7 linked regions of the Homo sapiens genome follow. The protein of the gene in region 6 purifies or fractionates together with the protein of the main gene of each other region. This does not show direct contact. Each region holds a gene or a part of one and is shown on either strand. Other genes may lie near its edges.

Region 1 (3,500 bases), on a different chromosome or scaffold from region 6:
GGCAGGAGAATGGCTTGAACCTGGGAGGCGGAGGTTCTGGTGAGCCGAGATCACGCCACCACACTCCAGCTTGGGCAACAGAGCGTCTCAAAAAAAAAAAAAAAAAAAAAAAAAAAGAAAGAACACTGGACGATGGAAACCACGTAAGAGAATACTCAGAGACAGGAATGAACAGTGTGTACAAAACAAAAAAAAAGCAGCTTAATATGGCCATATGAAAAATAAGCCCTGATTGCTAAATGTTGTCCCTTTTAAAGGTATCCAACAATTAGTGACCCTTGACATGGGCATGATGACAAAAAATAGCATGTTCTTTTTCAAATGAGGAAATGGAAGACAAAACAGATTGCCCATGGCAGCATAAAAACCCAGTAGAGCCAACCATAGGAATAATGGTACCTTTATATTCTGTGTTATTCTGATCTGGGGGATTCAAATCTATTTCACAAGAGGAAATTATTCAATCATAGAATCTACTTCTTTTAAAAAAATACATAAGGCCGGGGTGGTGGCTCACACCTGTAATCCCAGCACTTTGGGAGGCCGAGGTGGGTGGATCACAAGGTCAGGAGATCGAGACCATCCTGGCTAACACGGTGAAACCCCGTTTCTGCTAAAAATACAAAAAATTAGCTAGGTGTGGTGGCGGGCGCCTGTAGTCCCAGCTACTCGGGAGGCTGAGGCAGGAGAATGGCCTGAACCTGGGAGGCGGAGCTTGCAGTGAGCCAATATCGCACCACTGCACTCTAGCCTGGGCAACAGAGTGAGACTCCGTCTCAAACAAACAAACATAAAGAGGCCAGGTGCAGTGGCTCACGCCTGTAATCCCAGCACTTTGGAAGGCTGAAGTGAGAAGACTGCTTAAGCCCAGGAATTCAAGACCAACCTGGGCAACATATTTTTTAAATAAAATAAAATAAAGAAAAAAGTAGCAGAAAATTTTGCACCTAAAAGAGAAATTAACATGAAAATCATATAATTATTTTCCTCATACAAGGAAATGTTATAAGCTAATTTTCACACAAACTTTTCAACCCAATTTACCTAAGCTTATATATCATAAGGCTCCTAGTCTTGATATCAATAATCATATCCAATAATGGCGAATAAGCCTAAGGAAGTGAGTGACTTGTGCAAGATATCCCAGTGCAGACCTTGGAGTCTCTTCACTCAAAAGCCAATTCATATTACCTATCTTTCAACCTACCTTCATATAACCATGTAGTGTGCTCTTCAGCTTAACACTCTTCAAATACTATAACTGATGAACTATCAGTGTTACATACTTTCATGTAACATAAATTTAGGTTTCATTAGGCTATGAAATTATAATGTTCAAATAGCACAATTTTCTACAATATCCACATTTCACAGTGTAAACAAAAAGAAAAATCATTTTCTCTACATTTTGTCTTTGCATTTTCCTTTTTACATATACTATGAACAATAAATAGTACTTTTTTTTTAAAGCAAAGGAGACCTTTTGTAAAAGAAACTAAACCGAGATCCAACAATTCATAGTATAACAAAGAATGACTTAAAGTTGCAAACCTTTGAGAAGCTTCTTCAGTAGGTCATCAGAGTATTTCAGGGCTCCAAGATGAGCAAGAACCTGAGGTAATCTATAATCAGCAAACATGGTGATACTGGAGATGTCCTTGAAGCAGCCATCTCCTTTTCCTTCCAATACACTCCACGTATCTGCTACAAGGATTTGGGCTCGTTTGTAAAAAGAAACTCTTTTCCCCTGATGAATGAAGAGAATATAAACGTTATTTGAGTATCTGAAAGCTTTATATATGCTATTTTTTAAAGGTGCAGTTGAAACATTTTTTAAAAGGCAGAATAATCTTACTTTGTTGGTAAGAATTTATAGATTGGCCGGGCACCATGGCTCCCGCCTGTAATCCCAGCACTTTGGGAGGCTGAGGTGGGCAGATTGCTTGAGCCCAGGAGTTCAAGACCAGCCTGTGAAACATGGCATAACTCCAACTCTACAAAAAAAAAAAATTAGCTGGGCGTGGTGGCACACATCTATGGTCCCAGATACTCAGGAGGTGAGGTGGGAGAATCGCATGAGCCTGGGAGGTCAAGCCTGCAGTGAACTGTGATCACACCACTGCACTCCAGCCTGGGTTACAGAGGGAGACCCTGTCTCAAAAAAAAAAAAAAAAAATTCATAGATCTTTTACAAGAAACAAAAGGATTTAATGAACATTAAATTTTCTATCACTCCAAACTCGCTTCCCATTTTTCAAGGCACATAAAATACAATTTATGTAATCTTGATACTACTTACTATTCTTTTTCAATGGCATTACTTCATATACAGATTTCTGCAATATAATCCTAGGGCTTATTATTATTATTATTTTTTGAGACGGAGTCTTGCTCTGTCGCCCAGGCTGGAGTGCAGTGGTGCAATCTCGGCTCACTGCAAGCTCCGCCTCCTGGGTTCACGCCATTCTCCTGCCTCAGCCTCCCGAGTAGCTGGGACTACGGGCGCCGTCACCACGCCCGGCTAATTTTTTGAATTTTTTTAGAAGAGACGGGGTTTCACTGTGTTAGCCGGGATGGTCTCGATCTCCTGACCTTGTGATCTGCCCGCTTCGGCCTCCCAAAGTGCCGAGATTACAGGTGTAAGCCACCGTGCCTGGCCCAAGGGCTTATTATTTTAAATGTGTAGATAGCATTCCTTTTGAAAGTTTCTTAAATTAAAACACGTCTGTTTTTCTGATTGCAATATAATTCACATTAATTGTATAATATACAGCCAAGTATAGGCCAGGCATGGTGGCTCACGCCTGTAATCCCAGCACTTTGGGAGACTGAGACAGGAGGATCACGAGGTCAGGAGTTCGAGACCAGCCTGGCCCATATGGTAATACCCCGTCTGTACTAAAAATACAAAAATTAGCTGGGTGTGGTGGCGATCGCCTGTAGTCTCAGCTACTCAGGAGGCTGAGGTAGAAGAATTGCTTGAACTTGAGTGGCAGAGGTTGCAGTGAGCCGAGATCGCACCACTGCACTCCAGCCTGGGCAACAGAGCAAGGCTCTGTCAAAAATAATAATAATTAAAAAAAAATACAGCAACATACAAAGAATAATCATCCATAAGCTCAGGTCTGAAGAGAACCACAACATTCATTTTTAACTGTTTCCTTTCAGATAATATGATTAACTTATTTTATGAAGACATTAATTGATCAACAGCTAGAAAATGATCATATTTACCAATTTTGGAAATGCTCAAAGTTGATATGTAAGTCCAAATATGAAAATAAAATAGCCAATTATATTTATACATAGAAAAGACAAATTTAACCAAGCATTAGTGGGTTATAATTTAACTAAAAAATTCTAGCTAAGTGTGGTGGCTTACACTTGTAATCCCATCAATTTGGGAGGCCAAAGCCAGAGGATTGTTTGAAGCCAGAAGTTCAAGACCAGCCTGGAAAACGATGAAACTCCATCTCTACAAAACACGGCGAAACCCTGTC
Region 2 (3,500 bases), on a different chromosome or scaffold from region 6:
GAAACAGGCAGGAAGATCAACACTGTTGGCACTGGTGATTGAGGAGAAGGAAGGGGTCCTTCAAAAAAAAGAGGGTGGAAGGGTTGGATTCTGACTTGATATAAAAATGAAAAACCCAAACACCTTTTTTTTTTTTGAGACAGATTTTCCCTCTTAATGCCCAGGCTAGAGTGCAATGGCGTGATCTTGGCTCACTGCAACCTCTGCCTCCCGGGTTCAAGGGATTCTCCTATCTCAGCTTCGTGAGTAGCTGGGACTACAGGTGCCCGCCACCACGCCCGGCTAATTTTTGTATTGTTAGTAGAGATGGGGTTTCACCATGTTGGCCAGGCTGGTCTTGAACTCCTGACCTCAGGTGTTCCACTTGCCTCAGCCTCCCAAAGTGCTGGGATTACAGGCGTGAGCCACCATGCCTGGCCACAAACACCTATTCTTAAACATGTATGTATCACACAGACACATAAGTACAAACTCTCAAAAGCTCACTCTGTGAAACTTCCTACCCCCAATTCCCAGACATGCTATTGGTTAACACTGTAGAATTTAATCAAACATTTATCCTGAGGCATGTTCTCCAGTTATTACTCCAATGTAACTAATGAACGTAAGATAAAAGGGGGCACTCATTAAGCCAGAGGAATTAGCACAGTTCTCTTCTTTCCCTTTCAGTGCAGAGAATGTGTTCTACGAGCCGACTTTGGAGAGGAACACTCAGATATCAAACAAAAGAGAAACCAATGAATGGATAAAACAAAAGGCCAACCTCTAGAAATTCAAGTGGGGTAACAGCCAGGTTAAAACTTGTTACATACTGCGCTTTGAGAAAAATTGACTTTGCTACTCTAAAATTATATTTAACTTACCATTTATTGTCAACTGGATGTGACCCCATAATTAATGGTGCAATTGGGAGTTTGTACACAGCAGATGTTCCTTCAATTGTCACTGATGCATTCATGCCCAAAGATCGAGAAACTGGGGATAGGAAAGAAAAAGGGTATTCCTCAAAGTAATACAAATGATGGGAATCACAGTATGTTTTAAGAGGTTAATTTTTGCAATATTTGTCAGCTATAATTTATCAGATGCTGTTATTCCCTTATTTATTTATTTATGTATTTATTTATTTATTTTGAGACAGAGTCTTGCTCTGTCACCCAGGCTGGAGTGCAGTGGCGCAATCTCAGCTCACTGCAAGCTCCACCTCCTGGGTTCACACCATTCTCCTGCCTCAGCCACCCAAGTAGCTGGAACTACAGGCGCCCATCACCATGCCCGGCTAATTTTTTGTATTTTTAGTAGAGATGGGGTTTCACCATGTTGGTCAGGATGGTCTCGATCTCTTGACTTCATGATCCGCCCATCTTGGCCTCCCGAAGGACTAGGATTACAGGTGGGATTACAGGTGTGAATCACTGCGCCCAGCCTATTTATTTATTTTTTTATTGGAGGCAGAGTCTCACTCTGTCCAGACTGGAATGCAGTGGTGTGATCTCGACTCACTGCAATCTCCACCTCCCAGGTTCAAGAAATTTTCATGCCTCAGCCTCCCACGTACATGGCATTACAGGAATGCACCACCATGCCTGGCTAATTTTTTTGTATGTTTTGTAGAGATGGGGGTTTCATCAGGTTGGCCAGGCTGGTCTCAAACTCCTGGCCTAAAGTTGATCCACCCATCTCAGCCTCCCACAGTGCTGAAATTACAGGCATGAACCACCAGGCACGGCCTGTAGTTCCTATAAAACTTAGAAATCAGGCCAGGTGTGATGGCTCATGCCTGTAATCCCAGCACTTTGGGAGGCTGAGGCGGGTGGATCACAAGGTCAGGGGTTCAAGACCAGCCTGCAGAAGACGGTGAAACCGCATCTCTACTAAAAACACAAAAATTAGCCAGGTGTGGTGACAGGCGCCTGTAATCCCAGCTACTCAGGAGGCTGAGGCAGGAGAATCACTTGAACCTGGGGGGCGGAGGTTGCAGTGAGCCGAAATCGCACCACTGCACTCCAGCCTGGGCGACAGAGTGAGACTCTGTCTGGGGAAAAAAAAAAAAAAAATTAGAAATCCTGGAAGTTACCTTTCTAATCAACCAATAATTTTTGTCAGTAAATAAAACACAAGAAACAATGCAGTCCAAAAACATCATTTTTGAAGGGTTCAGTATCAATATTTACTTATTTTTTCTTCAGAATGCATTTAAGTAGGATCATAATAAAAGGACAGGCTGGTGCACTGGCTCACACCTGTAATCCTAGCACTTTGGGAGGCCAAGGCGGGAGGATGGCTTGAGCCCAGGACTTCGGGGGCTGTAGTGAGCTGTGATCAAATCACTGTACGCCAGCCTGGGCAACACAGTGAGACCTACCCCGTCCCCCATGCCAAATTATAATAACAATAAAGGAGCCTGACGCCAAGGCTCGCACCTGTAATCCTAGCACTTTCGGAGGCCAAGACAGGTGGATCACTTCAGGTAAGGAGTTCAAGACCAGCTTGGCCAACATAGTGAAACCCCATCTCTACTAAAAATACAAGAATTAGCCGGGTGTGGTGGTGCATGCCTGTAGTCCCAGCTACTTGGGAGGCTGAGGCAGGAGAATCACTTGAACCCAGGAGGTGTAGGTTGCAGTGAGCTGAGATCGCACTACTGCACTCCAGCCTGGGTGACAGAGTGAGACTCCATCTTAAATAAATAAATAAACAAACAAACAAACAAACAATAAAGGGATGGAGTCAATGAGTGAAGCTACAAAGGGACCTAAGGAGGTATTAGTCCATTTCACTTTTTTTTGAGACAGAGTTTTGCTCTTGTTGCCCAGGCTGGAGTGCAATGGCACAATCTCGGTTCACTGCAACCTCCGCCTCCCAGGTTCAAGCGATTCTCCTGCCTCAGCTTCCTGAGTAGCTGGGATTACAAGCATGGGCCATCACGCCTGGCTAATTTTGTATTTTTAGTAGAGACAGGGTTTCTCCATGTTGGTCAGGCTGGTCTCGAACTCCTGACCTCAGGTGATTCGCCCACCTCAGCCTCCCAAAGTGCTGGGATTACAGGCATGAGCCACCGCGCCCGGCAGTCTATCTCTCTTTATCTTTTCTTGTATCAAGGGCAAACAGAAAATAATGTCCATTACCATAGTTCTTTAATTTAGAAAACTTCACTTTTTTTTTGATCAGTAACTCACTACGTTGCCCAGGCTGGAGTACCATGACTATTTACATGCACGATCATGGTATGCTACAGTCTCAAACTCCTGGGCTCAAGCAATCCTCCCGCCCAAACCTCCCAAGTAGCTAGGACTACAGGCATAAACTACCAGGCCCATCCTTCTACACTTTTTAAACAATGAGTAAGCTGATTATCTCAGGTCAGATCGTTTATATCTCTTCTTATGAGTTGCTCATTTACTTATTTATTCAAAAGTACTTTTTTTCTTTTTTTGAGATGGAGTCTCGCTCTGTCACCCAGACTGGAGTGCAGTGACGCAATCTTGACTCACTGCAAC
Region 3 (3,500 bases), on a different chromosome or scaffold from region 6:
TATACATTCTCAAGGGAGCTGAGCGCCTAGGTCAAGGCAGAGTGGTTCCCTAAGGTCTTTCTCTGCCTCCTCCACCCATCCATTGAGGATGTAGCCCTTCAGTGGTCCCAGCTTTGGCTCCTCATTCTTCTGGTTCCTTGTGCCATGGGCTTTGACCCTGTCCCTGTGCAGCCATTAAAACTTAAATTGCTGGATTATCCAGGTCATCAGATTTCCCCTGGAGAGTCCCAGTCTCAATTTGCCTCTCTGAGTTTCAGTTTCCTCTGCAGTTTCTAAACTTAGGGACTTTATTTTGATCTCAGTTATGCATTAAAAGGAAACTTGTGATTTTTTTATGCAGTAATCCTGGATGTTCTACATATAAGGGCTTCAGGGGTTCAGAACACCTAGTTTGCCATAATTCTGGAAATGGAAGTTTTTGTCCCCTTATCCAACATTATTACTAAAAGGAGTGAAGTCATTTGAGTCCTCCAACTTCACTCCAGTCCCCTAGCAACATATCTTTCTTAGCCCTTCTTTCCCCTTCATTCCTGCCTTTAAGGAAGCAGTGCCCCACTTTCTCACCAAGGCTGGCGGCTCAGTTTGTACCCTTGACTCCACCTGCTCTACAGCCACTTCCGTATTTACTCAGCAAGGACGTGTCTAATGCCCTCTATGTGCCAGGAACTTATTAGGCACTGGGGTGCATACGAATAAAGTCACAGAATAAATAAAACGAAGAACTCAGAGTCTACCAGAGGCAGAGGTGGGGTGTCCTCAAGAGCGTTGCTCTGCCTGATTCATCTGTTTACCCTTTGGGGAGAACTTTTTTTTTGAGATGGAGTCTCGCTCTGTGGCCCAGGCTGGAGTGCAGTGGCGTGATCTCGGCTCACTGCAAGCTCCGCCTCCCGGGTTCACGCCATTCTCCTGCCTCACCCTCCCGAGTAGCTGGGACTACAGGCGCCCGCCACCGCGCCCGGCTAAGTTTTTTTTTATTTTTAGTAGAGACGGGGTTTCACCGTGCTCTCGATCTCCTGACTTTGTGATCCACCCGCCTCGGCCTCCCAAAGTGCTGGGATTACAGGCGTGAGCCACCGCGCCTGGCCTCCTTTGGGGAGAGCTTTAGCTTTTTTCCTCTCATTCTTCCCTCCCTGGTCTGTTAGAAAACCTCCCCATGGCCTGCAGCCTGGGACCACCATCTTCTCCCCTTCATTTCACAGCTACGCTTACTGCACTCACTGCCTCCCCATGTCTCTAGTTCCCTCCAAACATTCAATCTGGATCCTGCCTTCATGTCCTATTTGAAACTGTTCAGGTGAATGTCCTGCTGAATGTAGAACTTTATGTTTTCTCTTTGCTGGTAAGCATCAGAGACAGTGGAGAGGCAAAGGTGATCACGAATGCTCTGCGTTGGGGTCTGCAGGACTCGCTTTGGTTGGCTTACTTTCCCTTCTGTCACAGGGAGCTGTTGGTATCTTACCTTGCAGTTGTTTTCCCAGAAAGACGGTGGCAGCAGCTGAGTGGAAAGGTGAGTCTTTAGTATCCGTGGAGAGGGCATTGCTTTGGCTTTTTCCACACCTTTAAAATAGCTCAAGAGGAAACATCTGCGTAGTACAAGCACTACATGGGGACCTCATGATCCAGGCTCTGTCCAGGACATCCCATCACCCACCTGTCTTTCTGCTAGTCTCTTGACTTTCTTTTGGGATTTTACAATGGGATTATTAATATAATTTTCATTTTTGTAAAATCACACAGCTTGAGTCCTGGATGGGGCCTTAGAGTTAATTTACTCTGTCACTTTAAGGATGAGGTGACAGAAGGTGAGAATGGTCAAGTGAAGTCCTGCTGAGGCAGAGTCAGCCAGGACCAGAGAAGAGAGGACTCCCTCACCTTCCTGCCAGCCAGAGATGACCCCCATGTGCCTGCAGCAGGCTGTCTCATGTACCCGGCCTGTTTGCAATCACTTGTTTCATCTCTAAAAACATGTATACTTGCTGGCCTGTGAGTCATGATTTCTACTGTCTCATTTTTTTTTTGAGACGGAGTCTTGGTCCATCACCAGGCTGGAGTGCAGTGGTGCGATCTCGGCTCACTGCAACCTCCGCTTCCCAGGTTCAAGCAGTTCTCCTGCCTCAGCCTCCCGAGTAGCTGGGATTACAGGCGCTTGGCCACCACGCCCATCTAATTTTTCTATTTTTAGTAGAGACGGGGTTTCACCATGTTGGTCAGGCTGGTCTCGATCTGGTGACCTCGTGATCCACCTGCCTTGGCCTCCCAAAGTGCTGGGATTACAGACATGAGCCACGGTGCCCGGCCTCTACTCTCTCATTTAAAAGCCTTAACGAGCACTTTGTGCAATCATCGTGTTAAGCTGAGGTTAGGGGAAAAGGCAACAAAGACAAGAAAAACACAGGCCTTCTCCCTAAGGAGCTTCCACTCTAGTGTGGGAATCAGAGGCTCATGCGAATCATGTCAGAGGAGCTGGGTCAAGTTAGTGCAGAAAATCTCCTTCCTCTTTAAGACTGAGTAATGTTCCATTGTATATCCACATCTTGTTTATCAATTCAGCCATTGGTGGACACTTGGGTTGTTGCCACCTTTTGGCTATTGTGAATAATGTTATTTTGAATGTAGATGTACAGGTATCTGTTTCAGACCCTGTTTTTATTTCTTTGGGATATATACCCAGAAGTGGAATTGCTGGATCATGTAGTCATGGTAATTTTTGTTAAATAAAAAAGTGTTTTGGTACTAAAAAGAAAAGTTGGAAAACCACCTTTAACCATTTTTGAAGTCCATATTCCTTAGAAGAACTGCAAAGCTCTCCTGCCTCTAGTCTCTTTTCTCAGCTCCACCTCTACGCCAGCTCACACTCTGACCTTCCACATGCCCTGGTCCTGCTGCCCCACGCCCCTGTGGCTCCCTCCGGCTCTCATTTCTACACATCTGGACAGTCCCACTCACTCTTCAAGGGTCTCTCCAAGTACTTTCACTGCTGGAGACATGGTGGCCTGAACATTATGAAGATCTTTCCTGTTAATCACACACCTGCAGATTCTGATTAAAACACCAAACGTATCATTTAAGTGCATAATCAGGCTCATAAGAAAATAAGGGGACCCTCCAGGGACGAAAGTGAAGAGGGAGGGAGCTGCAAGATGGAGAAGTGGGCAAAGGCTTTGATGACAGCTGCCCTGAGTGGGTTCACCCTCTGGACACCCAGTGCTCAGTTCAGTGACCTCTGCTCAGGGAAGAGGCTGGTAGCCCTGGACTTTAGTGAGGCACAGATTAGGAACAGAGACCCATGCATTAGCCGGAGAAACTCAAATGTCTGCTACCTCAGTGAAAGGTGAGAGAGAAAAAGATCACCTACTGCCAAAGAGAGGTAAGGTAATTTCCTTGCCTCGCCTCTGGGTGCAGAAAAAGAGGCTTTCTTGAGAGCTCATAACCACAATCCTGTTTTCATACTACATGCATGGATATGAAATTATACTACCAGCTTGGACCAGAAGTTAACT
Region 4 (3,963 bases), on a different chromosome or scaffold from region 6:
CACCAGGTCACTAGTTATCAGCTGGGACCATTGTTTCTGCTGCTTACCCTCTCTTCAGGTACAGTGTTACTTATTGCAAAGGGGCATGGAAGAACCATTTCCCCAATCCAGGTTAAAATTTTCCTCTCCTGACATTGCAAGTGTCCAGTTAGCACCTGAGATCTCTCAGCATCTCCTGCACCTCCATTTCCACTTCCTTTTTCACAATCTGAACAGGAATCCTTCTTTCTACTCATATCTTTCCTATATTCAGAGAGAGTGGACTGCTAGTCTTTGGGCTTGTGGTCTCTGAAGGAGCATAGATGAACTCTAACAGGGATGCAAGAACATTCATGTATGTGCAGAAAGAAAATATTAACTGCTGTAATATTTCATACTATATGAGAAAGAATTTGAGGTTTACTAATCTAAAGTATAAGAATTGACAAGAGTATACCATAAACTCATAAATATGCATATATAGTCAGTGCATGTTCAAAAAAATCTTTAGCAGGTAGGCATGTATAAAAATATTATTGAAGAATACTCAATTAAGAATAGGAATTCTAGGACCCAGTGATAGTCCAAGCAGCCTTCCCTGCCACTACCAGGTCCTCTACTCGCCAGGAAATGGTGTTCATCTTCCCACCACTTGTAATATAGCACTTCTATTGATGTGAACAATGGTTATCAGTCCTACCATGTTCCTGGAGAGTCCCCAACTTTGGGACAGGCACCTCTCCTATTTGGTAAGAAAAGCAAACTTACCTTGCTATTGGTCCAGCTTTTCAAGTGGTTGCTAAGCAACAGGGCTATGTAGATATTGGATTTCTGTCTTCATTATATTGTTGTGTCAAATGATCATCTTGGGCAACCTCATGCTCAGTAATTACAATATTATGTGACTCACTGGATTCCTGTTTGTATCTGCCTTTTTGTTCATGACTGAGTAGGTCTTGTTTGCTATCTGCAGATTGACCAGACTTTCCTTTTGCATTTTGGCCAGACCATTGATCTTGATTAGGATTTGGTGTCTGGATTTGAGACTTGCCTTCTACTAGCTTTTCAATTTGGAAAGAAATACTGCTTTGGGATACATCTTTCTGCGTGCTCTTTCCTCCATAGTTGAGTCGTCTTTCTTCTGTACTTGAAGATTGGTATGACATTTTATTTTCCTTATGGCCATGCTCTTGATCTTGACTAGGAATTGTTACCTGGTTTTGAGACTTGCCATGTATTTTCTCTTCAGTTTGGATAGAAATACTGCCTTTGGATACACCTTTCTGTACATCCTTTTCTCCACTGTTGAGACGTCTTTCTTCTGTACTCGAAGATTGGTATGATATTTTATTTTCCTTATGGCCATACTCTTGAGCTTGACTAGGAATTCTTACCTGGTTTTGAGACTTGCCATGTATTTGCTCTTCAGTTTGGATCGAAATACTGCCTTTGGATACACCTTTCTGGATGCCCTTTTCTCCACAGTTGAGATGTCTTTCTTCTGTACTTGAAGATTGGTATGATATTTTATTTTCCTTATGGCCATGCTCTTGATCTTGACTATGAATTGTTACCTGGTTTTGAGACTTGCCATGTATTTTCTCTTCAGTTTGGATAGAAATGCTGCCTTTGGATACATCTTTCTGTACACTCTTTTCTCCATGGTGAAGTTGTCTTTCTTCTGTACGTGAAGACGGGTATGATATTTTATGTGCCTTCCGGCCATGCTCTTGATCTTGACTGAGATTTTTTGTCTGGTGTTGATTCTTGTTATATACTAGGAGCTCATCTTGGGTAGTAAAAATGTCTTTGGGTCCATGTTGGAGTCTGTCTTGATGTGCAGGATGGAGTGAAGTTTGTAGTTTACTTGAATGTTCCTCTCTCACGTCAACCACATTTTGGTAATGCCCTTTATTTTGATGAGAATTTTTAGTCTCACGTTGTTGTTTGTTAACTACTAGTTCTTCAGTTTGGAGAACATAACTGCTTTGGGATCCACCTTGTGTTCTACCTTTTTGTGCACCAGAGGCTGAAGCTTGTTCTTTACTTAGTCCATGAACCCATAGCCTTTTTTCTGTGTTTGAACATTGACTGGATAATCCCTTTCCAGATGGGCTATTCCCCTGATCTTGAGAAGGATTTTGTGTCCCATGATGAGCTTGGCCTCCTTTATGATGTATAACTATCATGTGAAAATGACCTTTTGATTTATCATGGTCTCTGCCTTCTTGTTTATAATTGAGCAGTTGTTGACTTCCACCTAGGTGTTGTTTTGATTTTGTCGCCTTATGTAGGGCATTCAAATCATATTGCTGACTTTTTCGGGTCCAGTCATGATCATTGATGTCTACATGATATGTGTGTTGAATAGAAAAACTGCCTTTGGATTTAGTATGTTGTTGGTCTTTTTGTCCAAAATAGTGCTGGCCCTTTTGTCCATGTGGAAATTGGGAAGATCCGCTTGGCAATTGGCCTTTTGATCCACCTGGTAATTGATAATAGAAATGTATGCATTCATTATCTCCAAAGCTCTCTTGCAACTCTTACCTCCCACCTTTTCCCAACAAATTTCTGATATTTCCAAAAGCCTACAGCGTTGGGTGGAGAAAAATCAATTCTCATCAAGGAGAAGAATCTGTGCCTGAACAGGTTACTGTTTGCACCCTGAATATCCTTAGAGGCCATTTTTTTAAAGTAGCTTTCCCCAAGGCTTACCCTCTCCACTCACCTTTTTGTCCCATCACAGCTGCTTGCTTCTCCAAGATAAGGAGCAGGGAAAGGACAAAGAGGATGATGGACTTCATCTTGCTTGAAAAATCTTGTCTGAGAACTGAGCGGATCTCTTCATTTATATGTTCCTTGAGTGGGTGTGCTATGGGTGGAGCTGAAATGTCAAAAGGCACTGCCCTTTCATAGCTTATTAGTAAATGCCAGCTTCCTCACCCCTGCTCAGTGGGGGATAATGTCAAAGTCCCCAGGGACTTAGCATGGGGACATAATATCAAAGGCAATTTTTTTTACTTTCAGAATCCCCAGCAAAATTTTATCGGTCTTTGTATATCATCATGCCAGATCGCTTGCATTATACAGAAGAAATTCAGTCCGGAGTAGGAAGGAGACTAGCTTCAGGTTACAAAAGTAATTGGTGGCTGACAATGCCTTCATACTCTAAATGCGAGTTTCCTTTCTGATCCAATAACTTAAATACTAAATTTTAGGTATAACTCTATACTTTGTCTTGTTTTAAAGTAATCCTGAGACACATTCTGTTTTACTCGAGAAGGAGCAGTCATAGAAGTAGAATGATACAGAAGAGAAAGAAACTTCATGGAAGCCAAAGAAAAAAATTTCAACAAATAAATGAGGCATACCAATGTCAAATGTATCTGTGAAGTTCATCACAAAAAAGACTAACATGTGTCAAAAACTTTCTGATGTTACTCACTGCTAGTAATGTTAACGAGAGATGAATACAGTTGTGTTGGGTTGTCAGTTGAAGGATGGAGTCCAGCTGAAACCATCTCAAGAAGTCTGATTTCATGGTGGAATGAGAGGTGAGGCTGTATCTGGAGGGTGAGGTAAGCTCCAGAGATTTTTTGAAAGGATGAGAAAAATTTAACATGTTTTTATGATGATAGGAACAACTGTTGGAAAAAGAAGTAAGAATGTTGGTTTCCAAATTGGATTATTTGATGATATTTACCTAAACAAAAATGTATTTACCAAAATACATTTTTTAAATAAAAGCATTTCATACTTCTGTAATAAACTGCTGAACCCTCCAACAGGCTGTGAGGAATATTTGCCAACTTCAGTTCATTAAATAATGTATTGAGAGTGGACCTAAAGCTAAAATTTTTACCTTGGGTGGAAGCATAGGGTTTTTTTGCTTTTGTTTTGTTTTGTTGTGTTGTGTTGTTTTGTTTTGTTTTTTTGCAATTGTGAAAACTTCTTGAAAAATCCAAGGAAGGTTTTTTGTTTGTT
Region 5 (4,300 bases), on a different chromosome or scaffold from region 6:
CACATACTATTAGGCATTTTATTGTATGTAAATTCTACCTCATTTAAGGCAATTTTTAAAATGCCACGTGAGTCTTCCAAGGAGTGCACAGAGGAAAGGAGCCTGAAGCATGGCTGCCTAGGAGAGAAGCAAGAGAGGCCTGTGGGTTCCCACATTCATCCCGTGGCTGCTGCTCCCTCTCCTGACACCCCCACTGCCTCACAGGGGTCTCCGTGCACCTTCCACCGGTCCTCACCCACAGTTACCGTGAGACTCCAGGTGGTTTCCTCCCTTGCTCACATCCCCTCCAGGAGCTTCCTCTTCCTGGAGCAGGCATGTCCCAACCCCACCTCAGGGCCTTTGCACTGGCTGTTCCCCGCTGCCTGGGGCTGCTCAACCTCTCCAGTCTCATAGAGACCACCCTGACCAGGGTCCAGTGGTCTCTCTCTAGCCCCTGTTCTATTTCACTTCCAACAGAGTGAGTATAACTCCCTGATCCTAATTGTTGATCGTAACCTACCATCCTCTACACACACTGTGTAGGAATTTACTGTGCAGTTCCACAGCCACCAGCCACATGTGCCACAGGACACTTGAAATGGGGCCAGTCCAAAATGATTCCTGGGCTAAGTGTAAAAAATACACAGGGAATTTCAAAGATTTACAAAACCAAAAAAAAAAAACACACATAAACGATCTCATTAATAATTGTTCCCGTTAGCTGAAATAATATTGTGGCTATATTAGGTTAAATAAATATTTTAAACATTACTTTCACCCATTTATTCTCATCTTTTAAAATGCATCTACTAGAAATTTTCAAATGCTTGTGGGTTCATGTCACATCTCTGTGGGCAGCAGCTCTGCAATGTCACCTCTATGGCTCATCATCCAGGTTCCGTCTTCAAGCCCTAGACCTCCTGGCATGGGCAGTAACTGGTGATAGGTTTGTTTATTGAATAATGAGTTATGAAAACAGAAGCCAGTGACCTTTTCCAAAAAGGTTAATTCCCTTAAATTTGGCAAAGAAATTCTCCATATTAGGGTGTGGACAGGGTCTTCTGGAACCTTCTGAAATAACCTCTCTGTTCCAGAGATTCAGAGACCGTGACCAAGTGCTCCTGGAAGCCTCTGATATCTGAAGACCCCGGGAGGCCAAGCCCTGTATTTTTCCCCTTTCTGAGCAAACAGGAAGTCACATTGCTTTCACAGTCAAAGGACCAGTGTCACCTCTGTGGAGACCTGGGTGACTCAAGCTTGGGAGCACTGGGGAAGAGAGGCATGGCTCAGGGAGGCTGCAGTGAGGACTGGAGTGGGGAGGAGGGGGAGATGGAGGAGGAGGCCTGGGAGGGGCAGGGGGAACTTAGGCAGGGAGGGAGCTTGTAGTGGTGGGGGAGTGAAAAGAGAGATGGAGAAAGAGGGGATGGGCAGAAAGAGGAGGAGGAGTCAGGGGCAGGGCATGGAGGTGGGTGGGGCTGGGCTGCCAAAGCAGGATAAATGCACACCTGCCTGCTGGTCTGGGCTCCCTGCCTCGGGCTCTCACCCTCCTCTCCTGCAGCTCCAGCTTTGTGCTCTGCCTCTGAGGAGACCATGGCCCGGCCTCTGTGTACCCTGCTACTCCTGATGGCTACCCTGGCTGGGGCTCTGGCCTCGAGCTCCAAGGAGGAGAATAGGATAATCCCAGGTGGCATCTATGATGCAGACCTCAATGATGAGTGGGTACAGCGTGCCCTTCACTTCGCCATCAGCGAGTACAACAAGGCCACCGAAGATGAGTACTACAGACGCCCGCTGCAGGTGCTGCGAGCCAGGGAGCAGGTGGGTGCTGCCTCCACCCGAGGGGTCCTGAGCCCTAGCCTGGTTTGTTGCCGGACCCCCAAGAGCATTCCAAGCAAATCAACACTGACACATTCATGATCTAATGCTCAGATTCATTCAGCTTTCTCTGACTCTCCGCTGATGCCCTTCATGCCTAAGCATGCTCCCGGTCCATGCACTGCAGACAGTTAAAGGAAGTGCTGCAGCTTCCTTTAACCTGCAGCAGCTGCTGTGTCTGTACCATGACCGTGGCATTTCCCAGCGTCCAGCAGGTGTGGATGGAGACTGTGCTGACTCTGGGTGGGCTTGATGCTGCTCAGGATGAGATCCAGGCGGTGAGGCTCATTCTCCTCCCTGAGTCCTCTCCTCAGGGGCCACATGGGAACCTGGCTCCCTGTTCTGCAGAGCCCTTCTTCCTTCCCCAAGTCATGCCCTTGGGCACAGCCCCTTAGGGCTAGTGGCCTTCACCCTCAGGCAGGCTGACCCACCCCTGCAGGCCAGGATGGCTGAGTCCCTGCTGGGGTGGAGCACGCCTGGCCCTGCCTCTACGAGCTGATGCAGAGTTAGACCTCAGCCAGATGAGGACAGCAGTCACCCAGCAGAGCAGAGGAGGGGTTAGGTCCAGAGTGAGCTTCAGCAGGGCAACTGGGCCCAGCTTGACCTGCATCCCATGGCAGAGCAGCAAATAGTGACACAGCCTTTAGAGCTCCTCCACCTTCTAGAAATTCAAAGGAATCCAGACCAGTCCCGTTTCTCCTCCTACAGCTGTCAGCTGGAGCCCTCACCCTGCACAGGAGGTGCACTCCCTGGTGCCATGGTCCCCGCTGGCCTGCATCTCCCTCTTAAGCATGACAGTAACTTGGAGTGAAGCACAGGGCATTGCAGACCATCAGACCTGGAAGCCTATTTTATACATGGGTAAACTGATACTCGAGGGATCTCAGCAGTTCCTCCTGGTTCCAAAGAGTCCCTCATCCCAGGTTTCTCCACAGCTCTGCCACGTAGTGTCTGGGAGAGGCCCTGTGCAGGGAAAGGGTTCAATTATAATCTGCAATTGTAAGACACTCAGGTGTGCTGCTGACTTGAGAAACGTATCTTGAACCTCACACTTGAAATGGTGGCATCTGGGCGGCCCCATTGACCCAAAATATCTGTGTGTGTGAAGCATCTCATTTCCTACTCTAAGTGAAGTAATAAATCTAGGTTAAATGGAGGGAATAAGATTTTCGTGAGTTAGCTGAAATTTTGTCATCAGACAGCCTTCCTAGAAAAGAGTCAGTGTTCCCTCACCCCTGAGCCACAGGTAGCAGAATTCAATGAATCCTCTTACCCAGCACAGAGAAAACGATGTTTAAGAGCGGGCATGAGGCTCAGCACCCTGCCAGCTGACAGGAAGAGGGGGCTTGTGTGCCTTGTGTTGACATGTGGGCAGCTCACGAAGCCCCCAAGCAAGTCCAGTGACTCAGCCACAGTGAAGTGCCTGTGAGTGCATGAACTGATGGGGGCGCTGTCCGTGCTTCCTGTTTTCTCCTGTGTGCAGACCTTTGGGGGGGTGAATTACTTCTTCGACGTAGAGGTGGGCCGCACCATATGTACCAAGTCCCAGCCCAACTTGGACACCTGTGCCTTCCATGAACAGCCAGAACTGCAGAAGGTACGTTCCTGATGCGGGTCCCGGGCCAGTCATGCACTGCAGAGGGGTGCGTATGTGTCAGCCTCTGTCCTACCCATGTTTGGACGGTGTGTGTGTGCAGGTGGGTATGTGGGGAGCCGTGTATGCATGGATGTGTACGTGTTCATGTACTTATGGGGGGGTGTGCATGTAGGTGTGCATGTGGAAAGGTGCACGTGTGTACACACATGTGCCAGTGTGTGCGGGTAGGTGTATGGAAGCATGTGTGCCTGTGTGTGGGTGTGTGGCGGAAGTATGGGGGTTTGTACATAGATCCATGGGGATGAGGGGTCCAAGTGAGTTTACGTAGTTGCCTATGTGTGTGCAGATGGGGTGGTGAGGGAGGGGGTGATGTGTTTGATTTGCTAGGAAGGCTTTAGCTTGGGAATGGTTACTAGAAGGTCAACTGCCTGCTTTGGGGTGTTGCCTGTTGGACAGGAAGAATCACCTGCGGGGCTGGGTGCTGGGCAGGGAGAAGGGGATCTGTCTAATCCCAGCCTCAGGCACCTGCATGCAGCCAAAGCCACAATCAGATTAGTGGGACCTAGAGGCCTGTTAGCTGGGAAGCCCTGGACCTGCCCGGCTCACCCAACACCAGCCTCTCCAAGAACCTGCTGGTTCTTGTGAGGTCTCCACTCAGGGGAGAGCGGCACTCCCCTTGTTGCCCTTGACCCATGCCCCAGCTCTTTGAGGGGGAGTTGCCCTGCCCTGGGTTCTTCCCTCTGGCCCCTCTTAGTGCTGGCCTGGGTGCTGGAGGTGGAAGGAGCTGGGGGAACTGAGCCACCTCCCCATGTCCTGCACCCTTGGGGCTCCCGAGGCCTTGCCCAGGCT
Region 6 (3,438 bases):
AAAAAAAAAGATTGAGTTAAAGTTAGGCTTTAATTAGGCGTAGGATTTTCTTAATGTTGGTTGCTTTTAAGTTAAGATTTGTAGTTGTCCAAGAAATAAGATTTGGGTTTGGTTTAGAGTTGGGTTAGCGATTAGGTTCATGTAAAAGCTAGATTAGAGAGACACTGGACTGCATTTAGGGCTAGATGTATCATTTGTTCAATGGGCATTAGGATTAGGAGCTGCTTGTAATAGGCAAGTTTTGCTCACTTTGGTCAGGGATTCTGATAGAGTGGGATCCCATGGAGACTGGCCTAGTTTGATTGAAATCAGCCCCCAGCTCCATTCCAGGCCACAAGGCTATGAGGCCGGTATGAGATGGATGGACAGGCCTCTTTGTCTGCCCATCACCAGGCCTTGGTGCTAGTGATGACACCGTCACTCAGCCATGGTGTCCGGGCATGGAGAATGCCTCAGTCAGTACCCAGCCCATTGGAACAAAAGAGGCTTCCCACCTGGCCTCCTGTGCCCCCATTTAAGGGCTCCAGCCATAGGAGTTTTGATGGGATTACTCACGTGGACCTCCTCCTTCCATTCTCTTGGGAGGCTCAAGAAGGGAGTAAGGGGATTAGCGGAGCCCTCCTGTCAGGATACTTGAGGTGTCCGGGGCCCCAGAATTTTCAGTGTCCTGGGGTGGAGGCAGGAGGCCATCTGCATATGAAAGAACCTCAGTGTCTCAGGGGTGGAGGCTAATGGGTTTATTTTTCCTCAGAGGGACAATCCTTCAGCTGGCAGTTGCTGTCTCAGCTCCCTCCCCACCAAGAAAGGATGTGGGTGTTGGCTCAGAACTGCCCCCTCTTTGCTTTCTTTCCTCTCCTTTCCCACAGGTGCAGCTGTATTTCTGTGCTCCACTTTCTCCTGGGCCTGGGCCTGGCGCATGCTGCCAGCCACCTGCTCAGTCCTCAAACCCCAGCTCACATATTCCAAACCTTTAGCTCCAAATCAGTAGATATCTGGGGCTGCCTAGACCTGGCTGAGGGCTTTCAGCACCTGGCCCCTTGTCCTAAGTGGAGTTTCACAGACCTGGGCACGTGGGCTGGGGCAGGGGCAGAGAGAGTCTGTGTCTCCCTACTCTTAAAGAGCTCCACAGGGCAAGCTCAGTGCCCACTCTCAGAAGCAGAGCCGGCACCTTCTCCCGTCTCTCCTCAGGCTTGCCTCCTGCACAGTGAGCTTTTTCTTCTCTCCTGTCCTAGCGAAGGGAAAGAACAGCAGCTCCTCAGGGTGGATTCCCCTGGGCTTGCAGCAGGCATCTGGAATGGGCATAAGCTGAGGGTGTGGGCCCGAGTCTGGGAAGGCCCTTGTACTGCTGTGGGAGAGGAGCTCCCCACGCACAGCCCCTCACCTGTCACCGCTCTCTTTCCCAGGTCCAGAAAGCAGCCCAGGCCTTTAACTCTGGGCTGCTGTGTGTGGCATGTGGTTCATACCGACGGGGAAAGGCGACCTGTGGTGATGTCGACGTGCTCATCACTCACCCAGATGGCCGGTCCCACCGGGGTATCTTCAGCCGCCTCCTTGACAGTCTTCGGCAGGAAGGTATAAGCTCCATCTCTGGGTGAGCAGGTTGACAGAGGGCAGCACAGGTCTGGGGGCCCCCTCAGAGGGAGAACCTCAGAAGTTCCAGTCCTGAGGCAGGAAGCAGGGGAACAGTGCTTTGCCAGCATCCCATCTCTCTATCGGGGCCGGAATCCTCTCCAGGGAGAGATGGAACAGCCCCGCCACACCTATGTGGAGGTGCTCAGTGAACCCTGCAGGCCAAGTATCTCATCTGATCTTTCTGTGACACTATGGGGGAGATGGGAATTACTATCCATGTTTTACAGAAAAGGAGAAGGGCCCAGAGAGGGTAGTGTCACCCAGCTAATACCTGGGCAAGCCCCAGCTTAGACATCAGGAGAGACCTGGGAGGATGGGACAGCCCAGGCCTGGTTCCCTGCCCTCCCAGCAGTCCCCTCTGTTGGGCCAGGGTTCCTCACAGATGACTTGGTGAGCCAAGAGGAGAATGGTCAGCAACAGAAGTACTTGGGGGTGTGCCGGCTCCCAGGGCCAGGGCGGCGGCACCGGCGCCTGGACATCATCGTGGTGCCCTATAGCGAGTTTGCCTGTGCCCTGCTCTACTTCACCGGCTCTGCACACTTCAACCGCTCCATGCGAGCCCTGGCCAAAACCAAGGGCATGAGTCTGTCAGAACATGCCCTCAGCACTGCTGTGGTCCGGAACACCCATGGCTGCAAGGTGGGGCCTGGCCGAGTGCTGCCCACTCCCACTGAGAAGGATGTCTTCAGGCTCTTAGGCCTCCCCTACCGAGAACCTGCTGAGCGGGACTGGTGACCCATGGCTGGGGGTGCTGAGGAGAGCCGAGTTGGACTGGCTACCCCTCCTGGCCACCCAGTACTCCCTCCAGCCTCAGCTGGCTGAACCTCGCCGCTCCAACCACCAGCTTCCTCAGCGAGCAGGGCCCAGGGCTCTGGGCCTGAAGCAAGAGCCAGCCCGGCTCCCAGTGTCTGCCCGGCTCCCAGTGTCTGCCCAGCCCTCTCCCAGACAGGAGCAGGCTGCCACCCCTTCTACCTCACCACTGCCCCTCGAAGAATTTTGCAAATGGCCCCTTGCCCCATTTTAAGCAGGAGCAGGTGGCTGGTTTGAAGCCCCAGGTATCCCCCTTCCCTGCTATGGGAAAGGCCAAGCTGCTGGGTGGGGACAGAAGCTGCAGGGGAGAGGGAAGCAGCCGTGCTGTCAACATCATCCGGCACCCTCTGGGGTAGGAGAACAGCCATTCCACATGTGTTCCCTCTATCCGTCCTGCTTCCTGGGCAGCTGGTGGTGCTGGGAATGGGGTGCCCCAGCCTTGGTGAGGACAGTGTTGGGAGGCCCAGGGGCCCAGTAAAGTGCATTTGACATTGAACCTGCCTGGTGTCTGAGCTGCTGCAGCCTCTGGCTACCTTGTTCCACCCAGGCAGGGACGACAGAGATGGGAACTGAAAAGAGGAGCCCAGAAAGGCTGTGTTAACTGCCCTCCAGACAGGACTGGCCTGAGTCAGCTCCTAAACTCACAGCAAGGACAGCAGTGGCTGTGACCAGGGAGAATGTTGGAGCCAGGCACCCAGAGCTCCTATCTAGTCATCAGCATCTTCTGCAGGCCCTACCTTAGACCAGGCTATCAGGGGACATGAGCAAAAGTGACAAGACTCAGGAAACCATTAGGAACAACTAAATGGTGACCGTGTACACAGGGATGGGCGGCCAGGGAAGGCTTCCCGGAGGAGGAGAGAGGCAGACTGGCAGGGAAATTGCCTCTGAGAGGAGTCAGCAGGCTCTGTTTGGGGACAATTAAGGAACAGCTTTAGAGAGGACACTGTGTGCTGGGAGTCAGGAGCAGGCTGGGCTGGCAGAGGACTGGAAGCA
Region 7 (3,500 bases), on a different chromosome or scaffold from region 6:
TCACCATGTTGGCCAGGCTGGGTCTTGAACTCCTGACCTCAGGTGATCTACTACCTCGGCCTCCCAAAGTGCTGGGATTACAGGCATGAGCTACCGCGCCCAGTCTTGCTCATTTAATAGGTAGGAAAATTGAAGCTTGGAGAAATTGGCCTCTTCCTCAGTCTATTCCTTGACAAACCAGCCTCAGGGGGGCTTTTCAGAATGGAAGTTTGATTAAGTCACTCTCTTCAACTGCTTCTTGGACATGACTCAAGACAAAAACCAAATTATTCAGACTAAGTGTAAGAGAAATGGGAGAATAGGAAAACTGCCATTTTGCAACCTCTGGTGAAATAGCTGACTCAGGCAATGATTGTTGATGGATGGCATTAAAGGAGAGGCTGATGGGGCCTGGATAGTCACAGGATGCTAATTCTTGCTACTGGAAAATACACAGTTGTAGCTTTACAATGCGGTTTTCGATGGCTGCCACCTGTCTCAGTCTGCTCCAGCTGCCATAACAAAACACCACTCTGGGTGGCTTAAACAACAGACCTATTTTCTCCAGTTCCTGAGGCTGGAAGTCTAAGTTCAGGCTACCAGCATTGTGGGGTTCTGGTGACACCCTCTTCCTGGTTTGCAGATGGCTATCTTCAGTGGCAGAGAGAAAGCTCTCTGGTGTCTCCTTCTGTTTTTTGGGAGGAGTCTCACTTTGTCACCTAGGTTGGAGTGCAGCGGCGGATCTCGCCTCCCAGGCCCAAGTGAATCTCCTGCTTCAGCCTCCTAAGTAGCTGGGATTACAGGCGTCCACCACCATGCCTGGCTAATTTTTTTTTTTTTTTTTTGAGACGGAGTTTCGCTCTGTCACCCAGGCTGGAGTGCAGTGGCGTGATCTCGGCTCACTGCAAGCTCTGCCTCCAGGGTTCATGCCATTCTCCTGCCTCAGCCTCCCGAGTAGCTGGGACTACAGGCGCCCGCCACCATGCCCGGCTAATTTTTTTGTATTTTTAGTAGAGAGGGGGTTTCACCACGTTAGCCAGGATGGTCTCTATCTCCTGACTTCGTGATCTGCCCACCTCGGCCTCCCAAAGTGCTGGGATTACAGGCGTGAGCCACTGCGCCCGGCCTCATTTTTGTATTTTTAGTAGAGACAGAGTTTCACCATGTTGGCCAGGCTGGTCTTGAACTCCTGATCTCATGTGATCCACCTGCCTTGGCCTCCCACAGTGCTGGGATTATAGGCATGAGCCACCATGCGCAGCCTCCTCCTATTATAAGGACACCAATCCATCAGATTAGGGCCCCACTCTTTCACCTTAATTATCTCCACAAAGGCCCTACCTCCAAATATAATCACCTTGGGGAATTAGGGCTTCAATATACGAATCTGGGGGGGACATTCAGTCTATAATGCTGCCTGAGCCTGAATGAATTTCACTACCCCTGAAAATGGGGCACCCAGGCAGTATGCAACATGAAGCGACCAGCTCTGAAGTAATCACCTGACAGCTGAATGGAAATTTAATCAAGTCTTTACATTCAATTTCCTGATTCTAGGAAGTCAGAGGATATAGCAGGGAATAACAAAAAAGGGCCAGAGAGTAAATGTTTTGAACTTTGCAGGCCAAACAGCCCCTGTAAGTACTCCACTCAGCCCCTGTAGCATAAAAGCAGCCACAGACACACAAACGGGCATGGCTGTGTTCCAATAAAACTTTACTTTTAGACTCTGACACGGAATCACATATAATTGTCATAGGTCACCAAATTCATTCTTTTGGTTTTTTCCAGTTATGTAAAAACGTTAAAAACCAGGCCAGGCGCAGTGGCTCACGCCTGTAATCCCAGCACTTTGGGAGGCCAAGGCGGGCAGATCGTGAGGTCAGGAGATTGAGACCATCCTGACTAACACGGTGAAACCCCGTCTCTACTAATAATACAAAAACAAAATTAGCCGGGCGTGGTGGCGGGCGCCTGTAGTCCCAGCTACTCCGGAAGCTGAGGCAGGAGAATGGCATGAACCCGGGAGGTGGAGCTTGCAGTGAGCGGAGATCACGCCACTGCACTCCAGCCTGAGCGACAGAGCGAGACTCCATCTTATAAAAAAAAAATGTTAAAAACCATTTTTAGTTTGCAGGCTGAACAAAAACAGGTAGCAGTTACAAAAGTCAGATATCTCCTGGCTGTTGTGGCTCATACCTGGATAGGGTGCTTTGGGAGGCAAAGGCAGGAGGATCACTTGAACTCACGAGTTCAAGACCAGCCTGAGCAACATGCCAAAACCCTGTCTCTACCAAAAAAAAGCAGCAGCAGCATGGTTTTTGAGACCAGACTTGAACTTGCTATGGGCAACATAGCAAGACTCCATCTCCACAAAACAAAATTTAAAAAATTAGCCGGGCATAGTGGCATGCGCCTGTGGTCCCAGCTACTTGGGAGGCTGAGGCAGGAGGATCACTTGATCCCAGGAGGTTGAGGCTGCAGTGAGTTATGATCGTGCCACTGCACCACTGCACTCCAGACTGAGTGACAGAGTGAGACCTTGTCTCTGGGGAAAAAAAAAAAAATGCCAGGTGAGGTGGCTCACACCTGTAATCCCAGCACTTTGGGAGGCCGAGGTGGGCGGATCACCTGAGGTTGGGAATTCGAGACCAGCCTGACCAACATGGAGAAACCCCATCTCTACTAAAAATACAAAATTAGCTGGGCGTGGTGGTGCATACCTGTAATCCCAGCTACTCGGGAGGCTGAAATGGGACAATCACTTGAACCTGGGAGGCGAAGGTCGTGATGAGCCAAGATCGCACCATTGCACTCCAGCCTAGGCAACAAGAGTGAAACTCTGTCTCAAAAAAAAAAAAAAAAAAAAAAAAATCAGGATATCTGATAAGGGAATTGCAGTGAGAATATATTAAAAACTTACAACTCAATAATGAAAGGACACCTAACACAATTTGAAAATGGGTAAAGGATTGGAATAGACAGTTCTTCAAAGATCTACAAATGGCCAATAAGCATGTTAAAAGACACCAGTTCACACCCCCTAGAATGACTATAATCAAAAAGATAAATAATAAGTGCTGGTGTGGATATGGAGAAACTGGAACCCTTATACATTGGTGGTAGAAATGTAAAATGGTACAGCCATTCTGGAAAAGTCACAGTTTCTCAAAAGGTTAAATAGTCACCTTTTGACCCAGCAATTCCACTGCCAATAGAAATAAAAACATACATCCATGCAGGCGGGGCGCGGTGGCTCATGCCTGTAATCCCAGCACTTTGGGAGGCCAAAGCGGGCGGATCATGAGGTCAAGAAATCGAGACCATCCTGGCCAACATGGCGAAACCCCATCTCTACTAAAAATACAAAAATTAGCTAGGCGTGGTAGCGCATGCCTGTAGCCCCAGCTAGTCGGGAGGCTGAGGCAGGAGAGTCGCTCAAACCTGGGAGCCGAGATCACGCCACTGCACTCCAGCCTGGGTGACAGAGCAAGACTCTGTCTCAAAAAAAGAAAAAAAAA

The links.
Region 1: the proteins of POLL (region 6) and QNG1 purify together in Homo sapiens (affinity purification with mass spectrometry; 3 studies listed by BioGRID and IntAct, with this or other methods). This does not show direct contact.
Region 2: the proteins of POLL (region 6) and MED1 purify together in Homo sapiens (affinity purification with mass spectrometry; 3 studies listed by BioGRID and IntAct, with this or other methods). This does not show direct contact.
Region 3: the proteins of POLL (region 6) and SULT1C2 purify together in Homo sapiens (affinity purification with mass spectrometry; 3 studies listed by BioGRID and IntAct, with this or other methods). This does not show direct contact.
Region 4: the proteins of POLL (region 6) and SEMG2 purify together in Homo sapiens (affinity purification with mass spectrometry; 3 studies listed by BioGRID and IntAct, with this or other methods). This does not show direct contact.
Region 5: the proteins of POLL (region 6) and CST4 purify together in Homo sapiens (affinity purification with mass spectrometry; 3 studies listed by BioGRID and IntAct, with this or other methods). This does not show direct contact.
Region 7: the proteins of POLL (region 6) and NOSIP purify together in Homo sapiens (affinity purification with mass spectrometry; 3 studies listed by BioGRID and IntAct, with this or other methods). This does not show direct contact.

What each region holds. Positions count from the first base shown.
Region 1 is NC_000009.12:83,943,243-83,946,742, forward strand, and holds part of QNG1 (queuosine 5'-phosphate N-glycosylase/hydrolase), read right to left. Parts: intron 1,748-3,500; coding exon 1,552-1,747; intron 1-1,551.
Region 2 is NC_000017.11:39,423,764-39,427,263, forward strand, and holds part of MED1 (mediator of RNA polymerase II transcription subunit 1), read right to left. Parts: intron 976-3,500; coding exon 864-975; intron 59-863; coding exon 1-58. UniProt on the Homo sapiens protein: Component of the Mediator complex, a coactivator involved in the regulated transcription of nearly all RNA polymerase II-dependent genes.
Region 3 is NC_000002.12:108,298,895-108,302,394, reverse strand, and holds part of SULT1C2 (sulfotransferase 1C2), read right to left. Parts: intron 1,558-3,500; coding exon 1,460-1,557; intron 1-1,459. UniProt on the Homo sapiens protein: Sulfotransferase that utilizes 3'-phospho-5'-adenylyl sulfate (PAPS) to catalyze the sulfate conjugation of phenolic compounds. Does not transfer sulfate to steroids, dopamine, acetaminophen, or alpha-naphthol.
Region 4 is NC_000020.11:45,220,210-45,224,172, reverse strand, and holds the start of SEMG2 (semenogelin-2 precursor), read right to left. Parts: upstream 2,801-3,963; 5' UTR 2,784-2,800; coding exon 2,708-2,783; intron 2,465-2,707; coding exon 792-2,464; 3' UTR 748-791; intron 1-747. UniProt on the Homo sapiens protein: Participates in the formation of a gel matrix (sperm coagulum) entrapping the accessory gland secretions and ejaculated spermatozoa.
Region 5 is NC_000020.11:23,686,239-23,690,538, reverse strand, and holds the start of CST4 (cystatin-S precursor), read left to right. Parts: upstream 1-1,500; 5' UTR 1,501-1,569; coding exon 1,570-1,797; intron 1,798-3,337; coding exon 3,338-3,451; intron 3,452-4,300. UniProt on the Homo sapiens protein: This protein strongly inhibits papain and ficin, partially inhibits stem bromelain and bovine cathepsin C, but does not inhibit porcine cathepsin B or clostripain. Papain is inhibited non-competitively.
Region 6 is NC_000010.11:101,578,382-101,581,819, reverse strand, and holds the end of POLL (DNA polymerase lambda), read left to right. Parts: intron 1-1,403; coding exon 1,404-1,572; intron 1,573-1,981; coding exon of another isoform or gene 1,982-2,002; coding exon 2,003-2,367; 3' UTR 2,368-2,938; downstream 2,939-3,438.
Region 7 is NC_000019.10:49,574,057-49,577,556, forward strand, and holds part of NOSIP (nitric oxide synthase-interacting protein), read right to left. Parts: intron 2,822-3,500; exon of another isoform or gene 2,703-2,821; intron 929-2,702; exon of another isoform or gene 535-928; intron 1-534. UniProt on the Homo sapiens protein: E3 ubiquitin-protein ligase that is essential for proper development of the forebrain, the eye, and the face. Catalyzes monoubiquitination of serine/threonine-protein phosphatase 2A (PP2A) catalytic subunit PPP2CA/PPP2CB.